2 linked regions of the Homo sapiens genome follow. The protein of the gene in region 2 interacts with the protein of the main gene of each other region in a biochemical or structural test. Each region holds a gene or a part of one and is shown on either strand. Other genes may lie near its edges.

Evidence for each region. The genes of interacting proteins can lie anywhere in the genome.
Region 1: the proteins of ITGB2 (region 2) and KNG1 form a complex in vitro, tested with the Homo sapiens proteins (one study listed by BioGRID).

The regions. Positions count from the first base shown.
Region 1 is NC_000003.12:186,741,322-186,744,911, reverse strand, and holds the end of KNG1 (kininogen-1 isoform 1 precursor), read right to left. Parts: intron 3,391-3,590; coding exon 2,581-3,390; 3' UTR 1,208-2,580; coding exon of another isoform or gene 1,127-1,207; 3' UTR 502-1,126; downstream 1-501. UniProt on the Homo sapiens protein: Kininogens are inhibitors of thiol proteases.
Region 2 is NC_000021.9:44,910,865-44,917,902, reverse strand, and holds part of ITGB2 (integrin beta-2 isoform 1 precursor), read left to right. Parts: intron 1-7,038.

The DNA.
Region 1 (3,590 bases), on a different chromosome or scaffold from region 2:
AATGCCAGCCCTGCCACTTATTAACTATATGACCCTGGGCAGGGCACTGTGAACTACAGTTTCCTTGTAAAAGAATGATGTTCATGGGGGCCTTAGAGTGGTTGTGAGGATTAAGTTATATGCCAAAAGTAAATTATCTAGCATAGCAAATGGCTGTAATAGGTGTTCGATAAATGTTTTTTTTCTTTTGAGACTGAATTTCATTTTGTCACCCAGCCTGGAATGCAGTGGTGCAATCTCAGCTCACTGCAACCTCCACCTCTCAGGCTCAAGTGATTCTCCTGCCTCAGCCTCTGGAGTAGCTGGGATTACAGGTGCGTGCCACCACGCCCGGCTAATTTTGTATTTTTATTAGACATGGAGTTTCGCCATGTGGCCAGGCTGGTCTCGAACTCCTGACGCCAGGTCATCCACCCACCTCGGCCTCCCAAAGTGCTGGGATTACAGGCGTGAGCCACCATGCCCAACCCAATAAGTGTTTTTATTACAGAAAATTTAAAATCTCCGTCACTTTTTACTTTATTGATTTTCAATTTGCTTCTTTACCTGGATCAGAAAGATAATTTCAAATTGTTTGGAGGTTGAGTATTTTCTGATAGTGAGAAGTTGGTAGACATTCTATTAACAGAGATGATTTTAAAAATATTTTTGGTAATTAACTGGACCATAAGAAAACAATACTAAACAAGCCAAATTACTCTTAGCTAAGGCTTGGAAATCTGGAGAAAGAGGAAGAAGAGAAGGAGAGAGTCCTTAGATTACTGGTAGAAGCATGACCTACTAACTCTTCTTTTAGCACCCGTGGTGGTAAGGAAGTCCCGCCTAAGGACTTCTGCCTTGGCTAGGGAATGTTCCAGTGTTGGGTTATGAGCCTCCATGGCAGAGCCACAGCACTGACTCTCTGACCAGCTGGAATTTGCTGCAGAATGGGTAGGGCTGAAAGGAGACCACTGTGAATTAGAGTTAGAACATCAAGACTGATCTTTATTTCACCCAGAGGCAGAGTGATAAAATGGCATTCTTCTCTATTTAAATTCTATCCCATCTTTCTTCTTGTCCTTCCTCTCAAGGTTGCTGGCAGAGGTGGTTGGGGCTATGTGCCTGGAGTGAAGATTCTGCCCATTGGTCAAGAGACCTCCCTCTCAGATGCTGGCTCTGCCCCTGCCTTTGGGGGTCGACCCTTGTACTCGCAGGACCTTAGGTGACTCTGTAAGTATAGTAAAACGCAGTTAATATGATGTTATCATTCAATCATTTTTAAAAAGTGGAGCAACCAGTTGACAAGGTAAGACTTTTTCCTGACATCTGTGGTTGTTTATTTAAAAGAACAGACAATATTTAAAATGAAAGACAAACTCAGAGGTTCAAATGCATCCAATAACTTGAAGCAGCAGTGACATATACATCCAAAGATGATTGTAGCTATTTAAAGCCATATCTTGTTTTTCTAGGCAAAAGTACAACATTGGTTATAAAGCATATACCTTCTTTGCACTATAGGGCAATGAAAGGCAATCCTATTATTCTGCTTCTCAAAAATCAATGGTCTTCAAAGTCATAGCAAAAAGACTATAAAGTGAGACTAGAGAGTAATTTCCTCATAAAATTTCGGAACAAACTTTGCATCACATTCCATAATATTCCCTTGTCAATTATTTAAAAAGTTTTATTAGCAAGCCTGCTTCTATATTGCTCCCTCTGCTTTTCATCCTTATCATTAAGCTCGGAGCTTCTGTAAACTAAGAATTACTCAATCTAGGCTCAGCAAAAATAAACAGAATACTTCTATATGAAAGCCTGTTGCAAAGAGTAGTTAATGAGTAAACAGAAATTTTTGACTTATGAGAAACACTCTCACTCAGAAAGGGCAGTGGGAGTATTTATTTGATATAACTAGCCCATTTTGGGAATAGAAAGTCAATTAATTTATGTCCCCCCTTTCCTCCCTTTGGCCAACCTGTCTTCTTTCTTGTTACTTTGAAATCTGGAAGTTTTTCTTATTATTTCTTTTTTTTTCTTTTTTTCTGAGACAGAATCTTGCTCTGATGCCCAGGCTGGAGCGCAGTGGCACGATCTCGGCTCACTGCAACCTCCGCCTCCCGGGTTCAAGCAATTCTCCAGCCTCAGCCTCCTTATTATTTCTATTCCATTAATAAGTTCAGCATTTAATCTCTTGACTTCCCTTATTTTCACACACATTCAAATACCAAGTGCCACAGTTTATTAAGAATGACAAGAATCTTTGTATGCAAATTCATGACATATGTTGTAAGGTACATATTTGTTATCAGAGAAGCCAATTGCAGCAGGCCATACGGCACATTAGTTTGTCTGTTTACTGTGCTAGTTTAGAAAACTTGGGAAGAAGATTCAGAAAAGAGTTAGAATTGTGGCACACAATTTTATGCAGTCCGTGGAGACTGATGGTGTCTCCACTGGGAGTCTCACCACTTCTCTTTAGACTGTTCCGAAGCTGCATGGTTTTTGGTGCATTATATCAGGATATTTTCATCTGGACAATGGAGAGAGGGATATTGATACTTTAATAAAGTATGAAAGAAATACCCATAGCCACTTAAATTAAGAAAGGCCATCAGTGAGATCGAAATAATAAGATTCTTTCATTTGTGTGGTTGGATTAATTTCACTAACTGACTTCCAGGGGCGTCCAGGACATTTTGGGGAGGTCGTGTCTGGAAAATCTGATATTGGGTTAAATGAAAGGCCATTTGGGTCTATCTGGATATCAGGGATCCAATCGTCATCACTCTGTATGGGAGCTGGTGATATAGGAGGCATCATAGTTGCAATGAGATCAGAGTCCTGAAAGTCAGAAAAGGTAACTGTTACACCTGGCTTGGCTAGGGAAGGGATGGGTGTTGGCCCTTCTGTCTTCTCTTGTGTCTGTGCAGAAGGTGTAGTACTGTCTTCAGAAGAGCTTGCCAAATGCTCTGTTTTCCAACCATTGTGCTTTCCATTCTTTTTGCCTTTATTTTTATGTTTTCCGTGGCCATGACCATGCTTATGCTTATGTCCATGGTCAAGGACATGGCCCCCTTGGTGTTCAAGATCATCATCAAGTTTGAACTTATGTCCATGACCAAGACCATGCTGTTGTTCGTGTCCATGGCCAAGGCCATGTCCTCTTTGGTGCCCATGCCCTTGGTCACGTTCATGTTTATGGCCATGGCCAAGATTATGTTTTCTTTGTTTTTCATGGCCCCAGTCATGTCTACGAGTATGCCCTTGTTCTTTTCCTGAATCCCGCTCTTCATCTTGTGCAGGTGCCATGGAAGTGTGGGGTGGACTTACAGTTGTTTCTTCTTTTATTTCCCCTATTCGTGATGATCGGAAAGGTGAAAAACCTGGAGGCCTTTTCATCAGTGAGATCTAAACAGAAAATATTAAGATGAATGTATTACTGCAAAAATCATGCTATTGATGATAGAAAAAAACACTGAGATCTGGCAATGTTATCTTAGTTTACAATGGGGGAGGTGTTTGCCAGATTTTAAATGCTATATTAACATTCCAGAAAGGATGAATAATTTTTTTTGTCTTTTGATTGATCTTAAAATTTGTGGACATTA
Region 2 (7,038 bases):
CCCACCCCGGGCTGCGTGTTCTCTCCGGCCATTCAGGGTCTGAGAGTGCAGAAGAGTTAGCCCCAGGGGAACACCTTCCTGCCCAGCTGATTTGTAAACAGCCTCGCTGGGGACACATGTTGGTGTTGGGAGTGGTGGAGGTTTCTGTGTGTGATGGAAACTTGGGGTAGGTGTTGGGGAAAAGAGGTGCTGAGAGTCTCAGCAGAGGGCAGAGTCCAGGAGTCCTGGAGTGCAGCTCTCAGCCCCTGCGCCGTGCCTAGAGGAGAGGCTGGCAAGCCCCTGTCCCATGGATGGGTGAATGGGTGAGTGACAGTGGCAACAAGCCCATGCCAGCAGGGAGGTCCCACTGCCATGAAGCAGCGTCCTCATCAACGTCACAGTGGGAACAAGAAAGCCAGTAGCTTTGGAATCCGAAGGAGCAATTTCAGCATAATTCGTCGGCCACCATGAAATTCCATTTTTAAAATGTCCTTTATTCATTTATCACAAAAAGGGTGGAAAATACAAACAGGAATAATGAAAATTGAAAATACTCATAGTGCCACCACCCAGAGAAATGCAGAATATTTTGGAACTGTGTCTCTCTTTTTTTCCCCATAAATTCACTTTTACCACGAAGCCAAGCTGCCCTGAGCAGCTGTTTGCATGTTTTCGTTGCTGTGTGGGACTCCATAGCGCAGGCACCGAAACCGCCAAAGCATCTTACACGTTGACGGCTACACAGGGAATCAAGATATTTTGGCTGAAATCCCTGGTTCTTTCCTGGGGTGACTCATATGTTTCTTAGCCAGTTTTCTTCCTTCTTTTGTGAATTACCTGCTCAGGGTGCCACACCCTTGAAACATCCTTGAATGGAGTATTTACCTTTTTGTTATTAATTTCTAAGATCTCTTTAGAGATGAAGATTACCATTTACCTTTTGCACTAGAGAGATAATAGCTATTTCCTCTATGCAATTTGTTAGTACAACATGTGCCATTTTTAGAGTCTGTCTTCTTGCTATTTTCCCCCTTAGCTTTTTTTTTTTTTTTCTTTTGAGACAGTTTCACTCTTGTTGCCCAGGCTGGAGTGCAGAGGTGAGATCTCAGCTCACTGCACCCTCTGCCTCCCGGGCTCAAGTGATTCTCCTGCCTCAGCCTCGCGAGTAGCTGGGATTACAGGCGCCCGCCACCAAGCCCAGCTAATTTATGTATTTTTAGTAGAGATGGGGTTTCACTATGTTGCTCAGGCTGGTCTCAAACTCCTGACCTCAGGTGATCCGCCTGCCTCAGCCTCCCAAAGTGCTGGGATTACAGGCATGAGCCACCATGCCCGGCCTCCCCTTAGCTTTTATGCTGAGGTTTCCTTACTCTTAGATACCTATTCTTCTATTTCCTTTATTGTTTTATTCCCTAAAACTGAAGTCCTACACATTTGTGGCCATTCTTTTATGTCCACAGCAAGAGTGTCCGGGGCCTCGGCCTCACGTCGCCACCCAGGAACAGACAGTCTCCTTCATGTTAGATGGAGGAGTGGTGTCCCCTTGTCTAAAATGCTGTAAATATCATTTGATTTCCCTTTGACTTCAGGTATTTAGCAGAGTACTTTAGCATTCCTTATTAATATGTGTGTGTCGGGGGGGTGGGGTGTCTCATTTTATTTCATTTGGCCAGAAATTGTGGCCTTTAAAATTTGTGCTATCAGGCCGGGCGCAGTGGCTCACGCCTGTAATCCCAGCACTTTGGGAGGCCGAGGCAGGCGGATCACGAGGTCAGGAGTTCGAGACCAGCCTGGCCAATATGGTGAAACTCCATCTCTACTAAAAATACAAAAATTAGCTGGGCCTAGTGGTGTGCACCTATAGTCCCAGCTACTCAGGAGGCTGAGGCAGAAGAATTTCTTGAACATGGGAGGCGGAGGTTGCAGTGAGCCGAGATCTAGCCATTGCACTCCAGCCTGGATGACAGAGTGAGACTCCATCTCAAAAAAACAAACAAACAAACAAAACTGTGCTATCAAACTTCACAGATAGTCAAACCAACAGTAGGAACACGTCTCCCTGACCCTTGGGAAAATACGCTTTTGCAGGGTCGCAGGTTCAGAGGCGACATGGGCTGGGTTTTCCTGCATCCTCTCTGCTCCGACTTGTTCCTATTTGATCTGACCTGTTTTTGTCCCTGGATTTCCTGGAGCCTCTGTGATCCAAGGACAGTGTTCCAGTCCCCACCTGACGGCACTTCTCTCCAGTTCTTTATCACATTCCTACAAAGCAGAAATGAGTCCATCTTGATGCTCTGGCTTTTGGCTTAAAAGGTGGATGCCTAGTTTATAATCATCCCTTGAGCCTTCAGTTCCCAGCGCAGGGGTTGGCTCCCATGTCCTCTTCCTTCCAACCTTGTCCCCTGGCGGCATCGTCCATCACTTCCCGCGCACCTCCGAGTCACTTTGATGCGAGTGCCTCTCCTCTAGGACAGCGCAAGGTGGGTTTCAGCACAGGCAGGAGGAAGCTCTGATGCAAAGTTCCAATGGGTCTGCGGGGCCTCTGGTTCCTCAAGCAGTCTCGTCTTAGGGTTTTACGGGGTTGCAAAAAGGAAGCCTGAGACTGGGCACGGTGGCTCACGCCTGTAATCCCAGCACTTTGGGAGGCCGAGGTGGGCGGATCATGAGGTCAGGAGATCGAGACCATCCTGATCAACACGATGAAACCTCGTCTCTACTAAAAACACAAAAAAATTAGCTGGGCGTGGTCGTGGGAGCCTGTAGTCCCAGCTACTCAGGAAGCTGAGGCAGGAGAATGGCATGAACCTGGGAGGCGGAGCTTGCAGTGAGCTGAGATCGCGCCACTGCACTCCAGGCCGGTGACAGCGCAACTCCGTCTCAAAAAAATAAAAAGGAAGCCTGACCCCGCTGGATTCCTCTCCCAGCATAGGCTCTGCCCTCTCTCTGCTGTCTTGCTTAAAGTTTCCTTTCTTTTTCTTTTCTTTTTTTTTTGAGACAGGGCCTCGTTCTGTCAACTAGGCTGGAGTTCAGCAGTGCCATTAGGGTTCACTGCAGTCTCTCCCTCCTGGGCGCGAGTGATCCTCCTGCCTCAGCCTCCTGAGTAACTGGGACTAGAGATGCATGCCACCATGTCTGGCTAATTTATTTTCTATTTTTATTTTTTGTAGAGGTAGGAGTCTCACTGTGTTGCCCAGGCTGCTCTCAAACTCCTGGCCTCAAGTGATTCTCCTGCCTTGGCCTCTCAAAACACTGGGATTGCAGGCGTCAGCCACCAGGCTGGCCTCTTCCTTTCCTGTGTTTGCTCCTGTTCTCCTGTCCTCGACTTCTGTGAAAGGGTGTGTGTGATTTGGCCCGGATCTGCTGCAGGTCTCTTCTGACGCCGCTTTCGTGTCTCAGAGCCTGAATGTTCAGAGCTTTGCTCACCGTGAAGTGTGGTTCTTGTTAGCTGTGTCCATTTGGTGCCCGGGAGGGAAGGGCGCCCGGCCCCTGAGGGGTTCTCCGGGGAAGGATGACCTCGTCCCCCTGGTCCTGCCCCCTCAGCCCCCTGCTTCCCCTGTGCAGGGGACTTGGTGACAGGTACCACTTCCTGCAGCTGGGCTGGGGTTGCACCAGCACTTCCTTCTCGGGCAGGGTTGAGGTCAAGGGCGACTCTGATGCAAGGTTCTGAGAGGCCTGTGGGGCTGTGGATTCCTAAGCAGCCTCAGCTTTGGGTTTTGCACCTTAGGTCTTGGTAAGGGGACCCGCCCGCCCTTAGATGGGGGATGTCCAGAGCTGGAGGATGAGGAGGGCACCCGCCCCTGGTGTGGGGCAGCAGGGAGGGCCTTGGAGAATGAGGAGGGCACCTGCCCCCAGTGTGGGGCAGCAGGGAGGGCCTCAGGGTGATCAGGCTCCAGGCCAGAGCTCTGGGGCCAGCTCAGGGGCTGGGGTGGGGGGTGTCTGTGCTCTTCCTCCCCTCCTGCCCTGCAGCTCTGCCGGCTTAGCCTCAGGGCACCAGAGGTGACAGTGGCCAGGCACCTGTTTGCCCGAATGCTGCCCTACATCTGTGCCTTACCCATTCCCATCCCCCAGGGAGCTGGCACAGGCCCTTCGACCACCTCCAGGCACATGGAGGAAACTGAGGCAGATAGGCCTGATGGGGTCTTGGTCTCTCAGGCCTCAGGTGAGGCCCTGGACCTCCGTGGGCCATCCTGGCTGCTGGGCAGAGGGGCTGCCCTGCCCTGTTCTCCCACAGAAGGGAGGCTGGCTGCCAGGCTCAGTGCACTGCCTTACCTCCTGGAGCGGACCTTCATCCCCAGCTGTTTGTCTGGGCTCAGCCACTGGCATTGGGGGGTGGGGCAGGGCCTGGCTTCTCTTGTGCCCCCAGCTCCAAGCCCCCCAGGGCTGCTCATGGAGGAGCAACAGTGGGGAGAAGGTGGCTCCCCACCAGCCCCCTTCCTGTGGTCAAGGTTGGGGTGCCGTGGTCTCTGAGCCAATCCTGCTGGAATCAAGGTGCACCCCCTCTCCCTGTGGGCAGGTGGGAGTGCCCGGGGTAACTGGGCACCAGGTCCATATCTTGCTGCTGCTGGGGCCCTCAGTTTCCCCATTTGAGGGTATGAAGTGTTTGCATGCCACTGGTCACGACTGTGTTAGGGGCGGAGACCTCATGTCTGCGGCCCCAGGGAGAGCGTGGAGCTGGGGTGTGAGTCCTTACCAGCCTGGCTGGGGCTGCCAGGGGAGGTCTGCACCCCCTCCCCACTTGGCGCAGCTGCGACCTGGGGGAGTCCTGAAGCCGGCTGGACCCTGCACCCTGGGGGAGTCCTGAAGCCGGCTGGACCCTGCACCCTGGGGGAGTCCTGAAGCCGGCTGGACCCTGCACCCTGGGGGAGTCCTGAAGCCGGCTGGACCCTGCACCCTGGGGGAGTCCTGAAGCCGGCTGGACCCTGCACCCTGGGGGAGTCCTGAAGCCGGCTGGACCCTGCACCCTGGGGGAGTCCTGAAGCCGGCTGGACCCTGCACCCTGGGGGAGTCCTGAAGCCGGCTGGACCCTGCACCCTGGGGGAGTCCTGAAGCCGGCTGGACCCTGCACCCTGGGGGAGTCCTGAAGCCGGCTGGACCCTGCACCCTGGGGGAGTCCTGAAGCTGGCTGGACCCTGCACCCTGGGGTAGCTCCAGCACGCACAGGGCCTCCGATCAGCTGAGGGGCTGGTGGGCACTCGTGGCACCGAGGTCAGTCCAGGCGCAGGACTTTGAGGGGGCCCAGATGGAGAGCTGGAACTGGCCTCGGCCTGAACCACAACCCCCAACGATCAGAGATATGGGGGCTTTCAGACACAGGGTGGGCCCAATGTGAACCAAAACCACCTCCTCCAGGAAGTTACAGCAGGGTGCAGGTTCTGTTTTTGACCCCAGGACGGGAAGGATCAAGGGTTCCCTTTTGACATTTTTGTATTCTGATTATAATTTTGCTGGGAACCAGGGAATGAGGTCACTGCCAAAACAACAGGACCTTGGGGCTTGTTGGGGCGTCTAAGCTGTGGGATCCTCAGATGGGCCCCTGGTGGGTGTTCCGTTGGCCTCAGAGCCCCCAGCACAGGTGCAGGGCTTTCGGGGGATGGAGGGGAGCCAGGGCCTGTGGCTGAGGGCACCCGAGCCTCCCGGGCCACAGCACAGCACCCAGCGCTGTCTTCAAAGCCGGCAGGCCCTAGTTTGGGGCTCTGCTGGCTTGGGTCTGCCCACTGAACCTTGGGTGGCCCTGCCAGCACCACCCGAGGGAAGGGTGTGGGGCAGGAACGCCCCAGCAGCCTGGGAGGCCGTGACAGGAACTGGCATTTGCTGGAGGAGGTGTGTTGATCTTTGCTTCTGACAACAGCCCCAGGGTAACGGAAATGTCTTCCTGCCCACCATGACAGGAAGGCTCCTGGGTACCCCTTCTCAGTACCTCTCCACCTTCTTGGTGCCAGATAAAAGGGTCCCAGCCAGCTATAATGTTCTCAGGTCCTGGGAGGTCAGACCCAGGGGCCCACCCCACCTAGGAAGCCCTAAGACCCCCCAAGGAGCCGACCTAGGCCTGGTTTGGGCACCTCCCGGATGGAGGGAAGGGAACCCAGGGGTGGAACGGCCCTGCTGCCCGCTAGGAGGTGCTGCCGGCCTCCAGCACCAGGCTGAGGCCTGCTTCCGTCATTTTGCCTCTGGGGCCGAGGGCCTGTGAGTGACCACTGAGCCGCCCCTGGCTGTGGATGCGTGGGTTAAGGACGGGGTGGGTGTGTATCTGGAAACAAAAGGGCAGGACCCCGGCAACTGGTGGCTTGGGCAAGTCAGGTGACTTTTTTTCCCACCTGGCAGGGACTGCAGGGCTCCTGGGCAGGCCTAGCACACAGCTTGGCACCCGCGGGCATCAAGCCAGCTTTCTCTTCCTGGCACACAGCCTGGCACCCGCGGGCATCCAGCCAGCTTTCTCTTCCTGGCTATGTTTCTGCCACAGAGAGACAGGGCCAAGCCCAGCTCTCCTCCAAGCACAGGCTCTGCTCACGGAGGACCTGGGGCACACTGGGGCAGAGTGCACACACCGGGTGTGTGGGGTTCTGGTGTTTGTGTGCGTGTACATTTGCACGTGTGTATGGTGTGTGCGTGTGGTGTGTGTGTCTGTGTGGTGTGTATGTGTGTGTACGTGTGCATGTGTATATTTGTGTGTGGTGTGTAGTGTCTTGCGGGGAGTATGGTGTGGGTAAGGGGTGTATACATCTCTGTGTGTACATATGTGTGGTGTGATGCATGTATATGTGTGGTGTGTGCATGCACGTGGTGTGTACATGCAGTCAGGCACACATCTGTATGCACGTACACGTGCATGTGTGGTGTGTGTACACGTCTGCATGTGTGTGTGTGCCTGTGTTGTGTGCCTCTGCAGGGGCCCGCTGCAGCTGTCCTGGGTGCCTGGCTGAGCAGGTGTGCTGCCCGCACTGCTGAGCCCGGGATCCCTCCCTCCCTGGCTGTTGGCAGCTGGGCCCAGTGCAGCTGTGCTGGCCTGACCCTAACCCACCCCCTGCAGCAGGGACAGGGCCCCAGCTCCTTGTCCCAGGC